Homo sapiens: one gene and its partners. The gene in region 4 interacts genetically with the main gene of each other region. Each region holds a gene or a part of one and is shown on either strand. Other genes may lie near its edges.

Evidence for each region. Genes that interact genetically often act in the same process or in processes that back each other up.
Region 1: changes in ILK (region 4) and NPR2 together harm fitness less than expected from each alone (positive genetic interaction), as found in Homo sapiens cells (one large-scale study listed by BioGRID).
Region 2: changes in ILK (region 4) and UCK2 together harm fitness less than expected from each alone (positive genetic interaction), as found in Homo sapiens cells (one large-scale study listed by BioGRID).
Region 3: changes in ILK (region 4) and GALK1 together harm fitness less than expected from each alone (positive genetic interaction), as found in Homo sapiens cells (one large-scale study listed by BioGRID).

The regions. Positions count from the first base shown.
Region 1 is NC_000009.12:35,798,091-35,801,590, forward strand, and holds part of NPR2 (atrial natriuretic peptide receptor 2 isoform 1 precursor), read left to right. Parts: intron 1-1,527; coding exon 1,528-1,641; intron 1,642-1,931; coding exon 1,932-2,067; intron 2,068-2,298; coding exon 2,299-2,393; intron 2,394-2,618; coding exon 2,619-2,751; exon of another isoform or gene 2,752-2,755; intron 2,756-2,979; coding exon 2,980-3,064; intron 3,065-3,500. UniProt on the Homo sapiens protein: Receptor for the C-type natriuretic peptide NPPC/CNP hormone. Has guanylate cyclase activity upon binding of its ligand. May play a role in the regulation of skeletal growth.
Region 2 is NC_000001.11:165,907,614-165,909,865, reverse strand, and holds part of UCK2 (uridine-cytidine kinase 2), read right to left. Parts: intron 2,183-2,252; coding exon 2,043-2,182; 3' UTR 1-2,042. UniProt on the Homo sapiens protein: Phosphorylates uridine and cytidine to uridine monophosphate and cytidine monophosphate. Does not phosphorylate deoxyribonucleosides or purine ribonucleosides. Can use ATP or GTP as a phosphate donor.
Region 3 is NC_000017.11:75,762,393-75,766,461, forward strand, and holds the start of GALK1 (galactokinase), read right to left. Parts: upstream 2,801-4,069; 5' UTR 2,745-2,800; coding exon 2,580-2,744; intron 1,695-2,579; coding exon 1,505-1,694; intron 1,048-1,504; coding exon 928-1,047; intron 758-927; coding exon 622-757; intron 494-621; coding exon 312-493; intron 1-311. UniProt on the Homo sapiens protein: Catalyzes the transfer of a phosphate from ATP to alpha-D-galactose and participates in the first committed step in the catabolism of galactose.
Region 4 is NC_000011.10:6,606,774-6,609,071, reverse strand, and holds part of ILK (scaffold protein ILK), read right to left. Parts: exon of another isoform or gene 1,027-2,298; coding exon 861-1,026; exon of another isoform or gene 679-860; coding exon 583-678; exon of another isoform or gene 379-582; coding exon 282-378; exon of another isoform or gene 189-281; coding exon 105-188; exon of another isoform or gene 2-104; coding exon 1-1. UniProt on the Homo sapiens protein: Scaffold protein which mediates protein-protein interactions during a range of cellular events including focal adhesion assembly, cell adhesion and cell migration.

The DNA.
Region 1 (3,500 bases), on a different chromosome or scaffold from region 4:
AGCGATTGTGAGACCAAAAGTTTGATAACTGCTAGCCTAACAAACTAGCCAAACTTAGTGTTGAGAATTAGTGTTTAAAATGTGTTAAAAACCTATCATCAGCCTTTATTGAAATATAAATTGTGTTGAACCTGATCTTTTCTCGCCCTTTTCCTGACTTTTTACATTGCTTGTCAACAATATTCTACCTCTTTATTTTATTCTTGGAACAGGTGCTACTGAATGAACTATTTCAACCCTTTCCTCAATTCCCTTCTCTTTTTAAAAAAATTTTACCTGAGACTGGGAGAATGTTAGAAGTGTGTAATCAGGCAGCTAAATGCTCTAGTAAGAATAATGATATCTTGAGGCAAGCTGCAGTCTAATATAATATAATGAATGCATATTAGAAATCGACTTTATTATTTCCTATCTCTAATGAATTGATACATAATAGGCCATATGTGATGTGTCTAGTGCAGCGTATCTCTATGGTCCACATGTACTTTCTATGACAAGAATAAACAAAACTGGGAGAAATGACCGGATTTTAAATTATCATTTCACAAAGTCATGTTTCATAAAATATATTGAACTGAAGTCTTTCCTTGAAGTTGTGATGCCAGTTTCCTGTTGGAGCAGAAGTTGGTCTCAGTGACTATGTGGCCTGAGGCAGGGCCTGAGACTGGGAGGTCCAGCAGCTCAGGAAGGGGAAATGTGTGAGACTAATGGGAGCCAAGCAGGCACTTTGGTGAGAGACAGAGATGCTGACTCATGCGCCAGTGAGATGTGTGCATGTCTGAGATCACATGTGTCATTTGCTTACCTGTGAAATGTGTGTGGGCATGTGACTGTGTGTTTGTCCCTGTGACACATCTATTACTCAGTAAGCAGGACAGTGCTGTTTGTGGTAGGTGTTCCACACATTAAATGGATGAGCACACAGCTTTTCACAGGTGGAATCACTGTCTCAAAGTATTTCCCTCAGTTGTCATAGGGCCTGAAATCTCTCTAATTCACTGGGCGGAGACACTGTGTTCAAGTGGCCGAAATGACAATGTTAGTATTTTACTGATGACATTAACAGTGATTAACATCTCAGAGAGGAGCTGTTAGTGGGTGTTGTCCTTGATCATAAGCAGATACCCAGAAAGCATGGGACAGAGGAGCCGTGTGAGCTGTGGTGGCCTGGCAGGAACCTGGATGCTGGAAGGGAGCTCTGGAAGATGTTGGGCTGGGCTTTGGGGATGGGGTTGACTATTATTTGCCAGTTTCCACCTTCCCAGAACCAGTCCTATCTACCTTTCAGGAGGAGTGCCACTCCCTCTTCCCAGATGTATGCAACACAACACACACACACACACACACACACACACGCACACACACACGCAGAGAGAGAGAGGTTAGTAGCCCTTTCAAAGCCTTCAGACTCACCTGTGTATATTTTATATCATGTATATTTTACCAAGTTTCCCTGTCCTGCATCTTCTCTTCCCATAATGCCTATCTTGAATCCTGTTCACTCTTCCCCATATGCTGCTGGTACAGACTGTATTGGTGATCACGTACCGAGAACCCCCAAATCCTGAGTATCAGGAATTCCAGAATCGTCTGCTGATAAGAGCCCGGGAAGACTTTGGTGTGGAGCTGGGCCCTTCCCTGGTAAGTAGATCTCTCCCTTCCTGAGAGTCAGGTCAAGCTTTGGGGAAGGGCTTCTCTCCCAAACTCAGCATCAAGTCTTGGCTGTGGAGCAAGCCCAACTTTGGGGGGTCTCCGCTTCTGTCCAGGATTTTTCCTTCTGCCCTATGGAGTAGTTAGGAAGGGATGGCACTTTAGGAATAAGAGGGAAGAAAGCAAACCAGAAGAGAGAATAGGTAGAAGGGAGACCCCAGAGAGAGGGGAAGGGGCCTTGCAGGACATTTGGAGAGTACTGCTGAAGTTGCCACCCCCAGATGAACCTCATCGCTGGCTGCTTCTATGATGGGATCCTGCTATATGCTGAAGTCCTGAATGAGACAATACAGGAAGGAGGCACCCGGGAGGATGGACTTCGAATTGTGGAAAAGATGCAGGGACGAAGATATCACGGTAATGAAGAGGGGTCAATGGGGGTCTGAGGGCTGATGTCAGGAATAGAGTGGGCTGAAGAAGAAACAGATGTCAGGATCACCACAGCTTTAGTGGGGGTTAGTGAATATGGCAGAGTTGCCCACACCTCAAGATCGGGGAAGGGTAGACTCTGAGGGAGCCGTAGGCATGAGTGAGTGGGAGAGGAGCCCAGGGTAGACCTCAAAGAAAGGACACTCTTTTCTGTCTTAGGTGTAACTGGGCTGGTTGTCATGGACAAGAACAATGACCGAGAGACTGACTTTGTCCTCTGGGCCATGGGAGACCTGGATTCTGGGGACTTTCAGGTGATGGAGGAGGAGGCAGGGAAGAGAGTGTGGCCCTGCAAAATCCAGCTTTCAAGGGTTCAGTCGGGGCAGAACCAAAACTACTAGATGAGGGATTTGTTTTCTCTGCTGGCACTGCATCCTGGCTGGGTGGTAGGCTGGGGAGAAAAGCAGCGAAACAGCTGGGGTCTGGGGAGGAGGCTGGTGGGAGCAGGCCTGTGGGCCCAGCTTTTTGCTTCCTTACAGCCTGCAGCCCACTACTCGGGAGCTGAGAAGCAGATTTGGTGGACGGGACGGCCTATTCCCTGGGTGAAGGGGGCTCCTCCCTCGGACAATCCCCCCTGTGCCTTTGACTTGGACGACCCATCCTGTGATAAAAGTGGGTGTGTGCAGGGACTGGGAGCAGCTTTCCTCCCTTTGCTTTCCATTCATGGCCTCCACCCTCACTGACCCTCCACTCTTAACTGTGCTTCTGCCTTTACGTCTGCATCCCTCCCTCCTCATTTCTTCCTACTCCCAAGGAGTCTGTCTATGCACCTATGCACCCCGTTCTCCATTCTGCCAAGTCCGCACACAGTCTTCCTCAGGGTCTCTATTTCCCCTTCAGCTCCACTTTCAACCCTGGCAATTGTGGCTCTGGGCACAGGAATCACCTTCATCATGTTTGGTGTTTCCAGCTTCCTAATTTTCCGGTGAGTTCTGGGTTTCTTGCTGACCTACTCCCTGCCCCCATTGCCACACAACCTCTGGCTGAAGCCAGGTGGTCCCTATAATGTGGGATAGGGTAGTAGGTTTCTTAATTTGCTGGTTGTCTCTTAGATCCAACAGCGTCTTCCTCTCTAGCCTTTCTCTTTAGTTGTCGCTTAGCCTAGGTGTTTGTTCCACTTTTGGTCCTAGACTGGATATACTAACTAGTGTTTTTCAGTGGGGTTAAGATCAAAGGTGAATTTTCCATTGGTCTTCTTTTAGGAAAGAACTTTCACCCCCAGTCTCTGTGTTTGTTAGTGAGCATAGGGCATGTGCCAGATATGCCGAGAATGCAGCCTTATCTTCCAGCCCTGTCTCTCAGGTGTAACAGTTGCAGCTTCAGGAGCTGCAGGGAAGCCCCTGCAACCCTGCTGTTGGCTT
Region 2 (2,252 bases), on a different chromosome or scaffold from region 4:
CCAAGGCTCTCCCAGACACGGGTGGGCTTCACCTGAGCACAGCCCAGTGCCATCAAGGCCAGGGGCCCTGTGTCCTCAGGATACTAACCCAGGCCTGCATTCCCTGCTTCATCTCAGAACTGATCAAGGCATGACTACAAGGATAATGATTGATCCTGAACTGATCTTGGTGAGCACCGGCTTTCAAAGGAGGCATCTTGGGAGCCTTCCCTTGCTCCAAGTAGGCGGCTGCTGTGACTGGGAGCTCCCTTCAGAGCCTGCACGGTCTCCTGAAAGTCTCCGGGTGGCAAGCTCTGCTGGGGACCAGGTTTGACTTTTTAAAATAGCAAAACAGATTTAGAGTCAAACTGAGCCCAGAAACGGGGAATCAGACTGGATGGTGCTGAGTCTGGGGGAAAATCTGGTGTGACCAGGTAATAATGGAGACCAATTTACCTGAATGGCTCGAACAGGCTCTGAGAGCAATGGGAAGAAAAGGTTCTCCAAAATGTTTCTGGCAATGGCAGCCACAGTGGGATAGCTAAGGGCACAGTCCACCAAGCACTAGGGTGGTCAACAATGAAATGAACATCTCTGGCTCTTCTGCAGTCAGAAACTGAGGCTCGGGACTCTATAATCAGAACTCCTTCAGGCTCACTTGGGCTCCCCTCCACCCAGAATGTCAGGAATCTGTACTTCCAGAGAAAACACTACCACCAAGCAGCAGCTCTCAGGAAAGCTAGAAATCTCCACCCCAAATATTTCAACCTCAGGCTCCAACTTAGGTACCTATGATTTAAATACTCTCCTTTTAAATACTTTGTAAAAACTGCTTTTCCGAGCCCCTTTTATGCTCTGCAGTTGCCATATCCACTAGGTGGTATTGCAAATAAGTAAAGCATCCTGGCCATGACGCTGCTAGTGAGAATCCCTGACCAAAGTTACTCTCCTCACCTCACTGCAAACCTCCAGGAAGCGGAAACTACTACCCCTCCACAGACAGAGCTCCCCTGCCACTCCATGAGGCGCTGCTGCCGGCATCAGTTACCGAAGCCCTCACCCACACCCAGCCTGCAATGGTCCACTCTATATTCCACAATACAGGAAAAAGCCCAAGGAGTCAGATCAGTTACGCCCCTGGGATGCAGAAAGAACCAGTGATTCTTCAGATATGACAGCAGGCAAAGTTCTGCCCTCTCCTTCCCATCTTCTATCAGGAAGCGATCCCATAAAATCTCTTCCAGGGAAGGAAAGAGGCAGCTCTGGCTTCTTGGAGAGACAGAGAAGCAGGAGGGTGAGGAAGGAGTCACCAAGCTATCCAAGCAGCCAGAGGCGAGAAGGTGGGAGCAGGGCAGGAAGAAAATGCAGAAGACTTGTTCTCCTCAGTGGGCCTCTTCCCTGAGTTTGATTTTTGAGTTGAGATTTTACCTAATTTCAACTCAAAAAAAAAAAAGAAAAGAAAAAAAAAAAAGACAAGAGTATCTCTCATTGACATATCACTAAGCTCCAGCTCCAAGAGTGGCATGTGACAGAGGAGGCAATCAAGGTTTTCCAACCCCATTCCCATCAAGTTCCACGGGGCACTCAAAAGCAACTGGACCTTAGCCACCCTCCCTGTCTCTCACAGATGCCCGAGCCTCCCCACCCTGGGACACAACAGGCAATTTCCCCTTGGTGAAATTCCAGCTCCAGTCCTAAAACACTCAAGTACAGACCCTCCTGCAAAATACTTATGGCAAACAGCTTTACAGTATTTGTACATTTACACAAAAATAGATCCTTTTTTATATATATATGTATTTATAACTGGTTACACGTTGGATTCATAATTAGGCATCACCAGTAGTAGTTGGCACAGTTTTGTTATTTAAGCTCAGGGTCAAGTTCTGTTTCATTTTGTCGTTCCAAAGTACAAAAAGAAAAAAAAAATCAAAGGCATTTCATCTCCATGGTGTTTTCTTAAATACAGTAATGTCATAGGAAACAGTATGTACAGATGAGCAGTGCCTCCTGACCCCTCCTCTGTCTCTTGGAGATAGGGGCTGGGGTCCGATGGAGACGGGTCAATGCGGCCTGCTGCTGGACTCCGATGCCTGCCTCTTGCGTGAAGGGGTGTAGCCGTTGAGACAGCCATTGGTCTGCCGTTTGGAGGGCCCTCCATTCAGGATGTCCTGGATGTGCTGCACGATGAGGTTGATGGCCACTGTGGGGCAGAGACCAGCAGAGCGTTACGGGTGCAGGCATGGGTGCAGGGGTGAGTGTGGGAGTCTGTC
Region 3 (4,069 bases), on a different chromosome or scaffold from region 4:
ACTGAAAGGAAACGTGAAAATGTCAGCAGTGGCTATCTCTGGGTAGTGGCCTTATAGCTTATTATTTTCTACTTTGTACTTTTCTACATTTTCCACAATGGAAACATGATTTTTCTGATTAGATAAGACCATTTTAGGATTTCAAGCAGCCCTGCTGAGATTGGAACCCTGGGTGCGCAGTGTTTGAAGGGACTGGGGAGAGCATGGCAGAAGGCCCTGGAGATCGGGGTCCCAGGCAGGGTCAAGGCCACACTGAGGCGCCAGCAGGGAGCACAGCCGCCTCCAGGATAGAGCACCCTGGCAGTTCTCACCCTCTAGCTCTTCCAGTTGTACCTCCCGGAGGCTTTCCTTGCCCAGCGCCCGGGCCACTTCTTCACATTGGCGCCGCCGCACAGGGTACTCGCTGGAGGCCAGGGAGTGGCGGACATTAGAGTTGGTGATGAGCACGGCCAGCTTGGGGTCCGAGAGTGGCACCAGGCTGGTCTCCAAGGACCTGGGGTGGAGTTACAATGGGGGAGATGACGAGGCCAAGCGTGTGCTTGCTGCGCCAGGCAGTGGGCACACTCCCACCCAGGAGCTGCTGAGTGCAGGGCGGGAGGGGACGAGGGGAGCGAGCCCAACCTGCAGTCAATGAGCAGCGCGTGGCCTTTCTGTCCCATAAGTGAGATGAACTGGTCCATGATGCCACAGGGCATCCCTGCGAAGCTGTGCTCGGCCTGCTGACACACCTGGGCGCGGGCAGCTATTGTGCCCGAGTCTGCAGTACAGGGTGAGGTGGGGAGGCTAGGGCTGGTGGAAGCAGCAGTGGCTTCAATGACACTCCAGGGAGAGTCCCTGCCACCCCCTCCATAAGGCATAGTAGAAGCTGGGACCACCTGGAGACCTCAGGGAAGGAGGGCTGGGTCAGGGCTGGGGCCTAGCTGGTACCTGGACAGAGCTGCTGGAGGAAGGTGTACGTGGCCACTTCCAAGGATGCTGAGCTGGACAGGCCACCCCCCAGGGGCACTGAGCTGACCACCACTGCACTGAAGCCAGGGAGGGGGGCAGCTGCAGGGGAAAGAACAGGTGATGGTAAGAGGGGCTGCCTGGGAGGATGGCACAGGAAGGGCAGGTGTCCTGGCGGGAAGGGCAGCAACGGCCTAGCAGCTGTTTCTAGGGTGTGTGTCTCAATTGTCAGAAGCCACCAACCTGCTGGGCCAAGGGACCCACTGCCCTCCATTTTCCCACCCTCTGAGGTTGCTGGGACACTTCTAATTGTCCTCCTGGTTTAGGGCTCTGGAGGGAAAAAAGGCTGGGGTTCAAATCCTGGCTCCTCCAATCAGGTCACGGGAAACCCAGGGCAAGTTCCCGACCTTCTGGGGGCATCAGTTTCCTCATCTGTACAATGGGATGCTCCACTCTACAAGCCTTCCCCACAGTGTATCAGACAAATGAATGGGCTCTGTGGCTGTGAGGTGGCACTCCTAGTATCAGTGAGGACTTGGCTCAGGCCTGGGCCCCATACCTGGGTAGTACTGAATCACTCCCTTGACATAGTTGGCCCACCGAGGAGTCCCAGGCTCCAGCGAGCGCTGGGCTGTGGGCAGTGGAAACTGCAGCCGCTGGGGCTCATCGGCACCCTCAGAGGTGGTGAGGAGAGACACCAGCCCATCCTTGCGGGGGCTGCCCACCAGCACCGTCATGAGCTCCAGAGCCTGGCAGGAGAGACAAGCAGTACGTGAGGCTTCCGCCAGCTGGAGTAAGCCTCTCCAATGACACTGCCTCCAGCCGAGGTTCTGATGCCTCCACAGTCATCAGGTTCTGAACCTCCAGGTTCAGCGTCGCAGGGAAGATCCTGAGGGCCAGCTGACCTTGGGGGCTTGAGCCCTGCCCCCTTAGGTCTTCAGGGGCGGGGCGGCTGCAGCTGGAGCACAGACCTGGACTCTGCCCTGAGCTGTGGGGCAAGGGGGAGAGCTAGCCCAAAGGGAAAACAGATCACTGGAGCTCCAAAGCCTTTACATTTTGGGGTGGCTCTGGACATCCTGTACCTGTGCACTCCCCAAGCTGCAGATGGGGCGGAAAGCGCCCCCCGCTGAAAGCTGGGAGTCCTCACTCCCAAGTCGCAGCCCCGCCAAGAACCTGCTGTGTGACCTCCAGCAGTTCACTGGGCCTCTCTAGGCCTCAGTTTCCTCCTCTGTAAATTGAACGGGCTGGGCCAGAAGGCTACGTTCGCCCAGGTCTGCGGTTGGGGCCCCACGGTGGCCGGAGGCGCGGAGTGTCCCCTTCTGCGTGGCACACAGGGCCTCACAGTTTAAGGGGAACATGCTCCCAGGTTGAAGGCGAGGAGCCCCAGCCCCCAGAGGGCGGGCTTGAGCCAAGAGGCGGCCGCGCACCCTCTCCCGGCCACTTCCTCGCTTCCTCCCTTCCAACGTGGGGAACAGCCTGTCCCGGGGACTCTTCCGTGCACCGGTGCTCCAGGCGCAGCTGCCCGCCCCACATCTCCCGCGGGAAGAACTCGCCCCCAGCGTCCCCGAGGCCCGCCCTCCTCGGCGGCCGGGACAGGCGGCGGCGGGCTAGGGGCTCCCCGTGCAGCCCCTCACCATAGGCAGCACCAGGCCCTGGTTGTAGTCCGTGTGTTCCCCGATGAGGTTGACGCGGCCCGGCGCTGACACGGCCAGCTCGGGCTCGGCCCCGAACTCCTCCCGGAAGGCTCGCCGGGCCTCGGCCAGCAGCTCCGCGACCTGGGGCTGTCTCAAAGCAGCCATGACGCGCGCCTGCAGCTCTGCACAGCTGCTCCGGCACAGCCCCGTCGGCGCGGGATGCTCGGGCGGGGCCCCGCGCGGGGGTGCGCACATTCCCGCCAGCCCCGCCCCGCGCCCGGACGCCCCGCCCCCAGACCTCAGCCGGTTCCGCCCCCACCCGCAACTCCCGTGGGAATCCAGCTGCTGGGTGGTGGGTGGCAGGGGCTAATGGTGCCGGGTGGGATACAGCGCCCCCGATGGTGTCCTTCCCTCTGGACTTCGGGAAGAACCAATGAGCACTCACTAGAGTGAGAATAGCCCTGAGTGGCACTTGGCATGACCAGGATTTCTGAGCTGCCCTTCCCTGGCGCTGGTGACTTTCTATGTGCCTCACCACCCACCACCACCCACACAGCCAGAGCAATGGAGCTGGCACCCGGTTGACCTGGGATTCCCAAAGGGATCCCCTAGGTCCCCAGGGCCAGCAGCTGTGAGAGGTCATCAGCCTCTGATCACCGGTCTCCAAGAGGGTGACCTGACACTCACTGTAAGTAGAGATAAAGACAGACAAGTTTGGGCCGGGCGCAGTGGCTCACGCCTGTAATCCCAGCACTTTGGGAGGCCGAGGTGTGCAGATCACCTGAGGTCGGGAGTTGGAGACCAGCCTGACCAACATGGAGAAACCCCATCTCTACTAAAAAATACAAAATTAGCTGGGCATGGTGGCTCATGCCTGTAATCCCAGCTACTCGGGAGGCTGAGGCAGGAGAATCACTTGAACCTGGGAGGCGGAGGTTTCGGTGAGCTGAGATCACACCATTGCACTCCAGCCTGGGCAACAAGAGCAAAACTCTGTCTCAAAAAAAAAAAAGACAAGTTTGGTGGTGACCAGAGAGTCAATTTTACAAGCTCCTTTTCTAGGTAATACGCAACAGCTCCTAGCAATGGAGAATTGGACTAGGGTGGCGGTGGCCAGCAGTGGGCCCAGCCCCTCCCTTAAGGACCTGCCACAGCTGTCCAGGTAGGTTGTGCTGTTGGCCCCAGCAGGCACTACTTCAGCCCAGAAGCCCTTGTCTCAGAGGCGTGGCCTTGTTCCCAGTCAGGCACTCTTCTCTTGCTATCCTGCATCCTAAACCTGCTGGCCGGCCCCAACTGCTGCCTTGATACCTGTCCACAGCTGCCCACCCTACATGGAACCTTGAAACTGAAAGACTGAAATGTAAGCAGCTTGCTTGGGGTTAGGGTGGGAGTAGTGTGGGGAGTTATGGCCAGGGATTTAGCTTGGGGCCTGCTCAGGGGTGTGCCCAAAGAGTGGGGAACTGCATTCCAAGGGCAATTCTGAAAACTCT
Region 4 (2,298 bases):
CCTAAGAGTGTGGGCAGGTCAGGTACCCAGCTTCACCCTAACCCAGCCCCAAGAGGCCAGGATTATTTCCTTTTACAACCCTTCTTCCCACAGTGGTGACTCACGGGGCCGAGTGCGGGTGGTCCCCTTCCAGAATGTGTCCTTGTATGGAATACGGTTGAGATTCTGGCCCATCTTCTCTGCCCGCTCTAGGGAAGAAAAACAACCTAAGCTGTGGTACAGAGGGAGAAGACAGGTGGGAAGGGACGAGAGGACACAAGCTAGGGGATGGGGAGATGGACCTCGGAGAAGCTCTCTCAGGGGTGCCTTGGCTTTGTCCACAGGCATCTCTCCATACTTGTTACAGATGCTGACAAGGGCCCCATTTGCCACCAGGTCCTGGAATGAAAAGGCCATTATGATGAGAGCCACTGCTACCTCGCTGGCAGTCACTGAACCAACCATGAATGCACAAATGTAGAACTTAATCCTGTAAGTGTCACACAGTAGTACTGACAGAATGGGTTGAGGGTTCCAAAATCTCCCACCAAGGCTCAGACTTTACTTCCTACCCATCTCAGGAATTAAGGGCTGAGTACTCACCTCTGCCACTTGATCTTGGCCCCAAAAACAGGCATAGTGCAGGGGCACATTCCCGTGTTCATTCACTGCATTGATGTCTGCCTTGTACTGCAATAGCTGGACCCCATGGCCAGACAAAAAGAAGAGGCAGAAAGTACAGTCAGTTCCAAATGAGATACTGGTGTCAGGGCATGGGAAAAGGGGGAAGAGCACACATGCTTTCTACTGTATGTTACAGTGCCTGTGACTGACCCTCATGGCATGTATGTGATGTGGATGACGAAGGAGTTTGTACGTACCTTCTGTACAATATCACGGTGTCCATGACTGGCTGCCAGATGCAGGGGGGTGTCATCCCCACGGTTCATTACATTGATCCGTGCCCCCCGCATGATCAACATCTCAACCACAGCAGAGCGGCCCTCTCGGCAGGCCCAGTGCAAGGGGGAGAAGCCATGATCGTCCCTTTGAGGAAGGGGCAATGGTCATTGAGCTGGAGGTGGGATGGGGCAAAGGTTTTGATTCCTGAAAAACTGATAATTACATACTCTCTGGGAAGGCTTACCTCTCTAGGACTTTGATTCTCATTCATGCCAGCAACTCCCAAAGCTGTCCATTTCAGACCTTCCCCTGAGCTTCAAACCAAACCAACCACCTAGATATCTCAACAACCTCTATAAAAAAATGTGTTATCTTCACCATATCCCACATCTCATTTCCTTAGGTGGTAGTGCTCTTCCCCTGGTTTCTCTTGCACCCCTTCTGCAACATCTATTGGTCCTTTCTGTTTTCCACCACATCTTATATGTCCCCCTACTTCAGCACTTGTTGCACTGGATTGTAAAAATCTGTTAATGGACTGTCTTGTCTGTTAGACCTTTAAGTTTCTTGAGGGAATGGATTGACAGCAGCTGTTCAGTGCATGTTAGTGGGGGAGAAGGGTGTCTTGGAGAAGGCAGGCCACAACTTATAGAAGAGGGAACAAACTTACTATTTGGCTCTGGTACTGAAACTAACATCTAAAAATGGAATGGAATTTAAATGATGTTTTGGAAGGGTTTATGTTGAAAAGGAGAAATGCTTTTGACTACTGATGAGGTAGATAACAAACCACCATGCAAAGCAGGATTCCCCTACTTAGCAATCCTGTGCATAGAAAACAGAAGAAAATGAGAATGGCTGTTTTGGGATTAAAACTATACCTGATTTTTTTCTTTTCCAAGAAATATGTATTTTATAAAGTAAAGTATACAAACAAAACAAAACAATTGGTTTGGAGCTGGGCCTGCCTGACAGCCTGGGGCCATAAAAGGAAATTCCCTCCAGTTCGGGGCTGCAGATTCAAGGGGCGGAGCAGGGGGCGGTCCGTGGTCTGGGCCAGCAGCCTCCGGATGCCTTAGTGTTGTGGTCACTTCCTGTGTGCGACTCTAGGCAAGGCCTGGAGCTGATCAGGGGTCTGGCCATCCAGATGCCCGTACAGCTGAAGGGGTTGGGGGGTGTGGCCTTTAAGTTAATCATTTTCCTCCACAACTTGCTCGCATCTGCTAACACAGAAATAGCCAAAAGCTTTTCCTTGAGATGGGATTATCCCCAGGAAGCATTACGCCCCCTGTTTATCAGTTGGTCTTGCCTCCTAGACCTTTAATTTGTGCCCTGACTTATCAGCTTCCAGTACTGCCTGTGGCGCCAGGGCAGGCCAAACTCGGGGGGCAAAAGTATGGGCACAAGGGTTCTGTT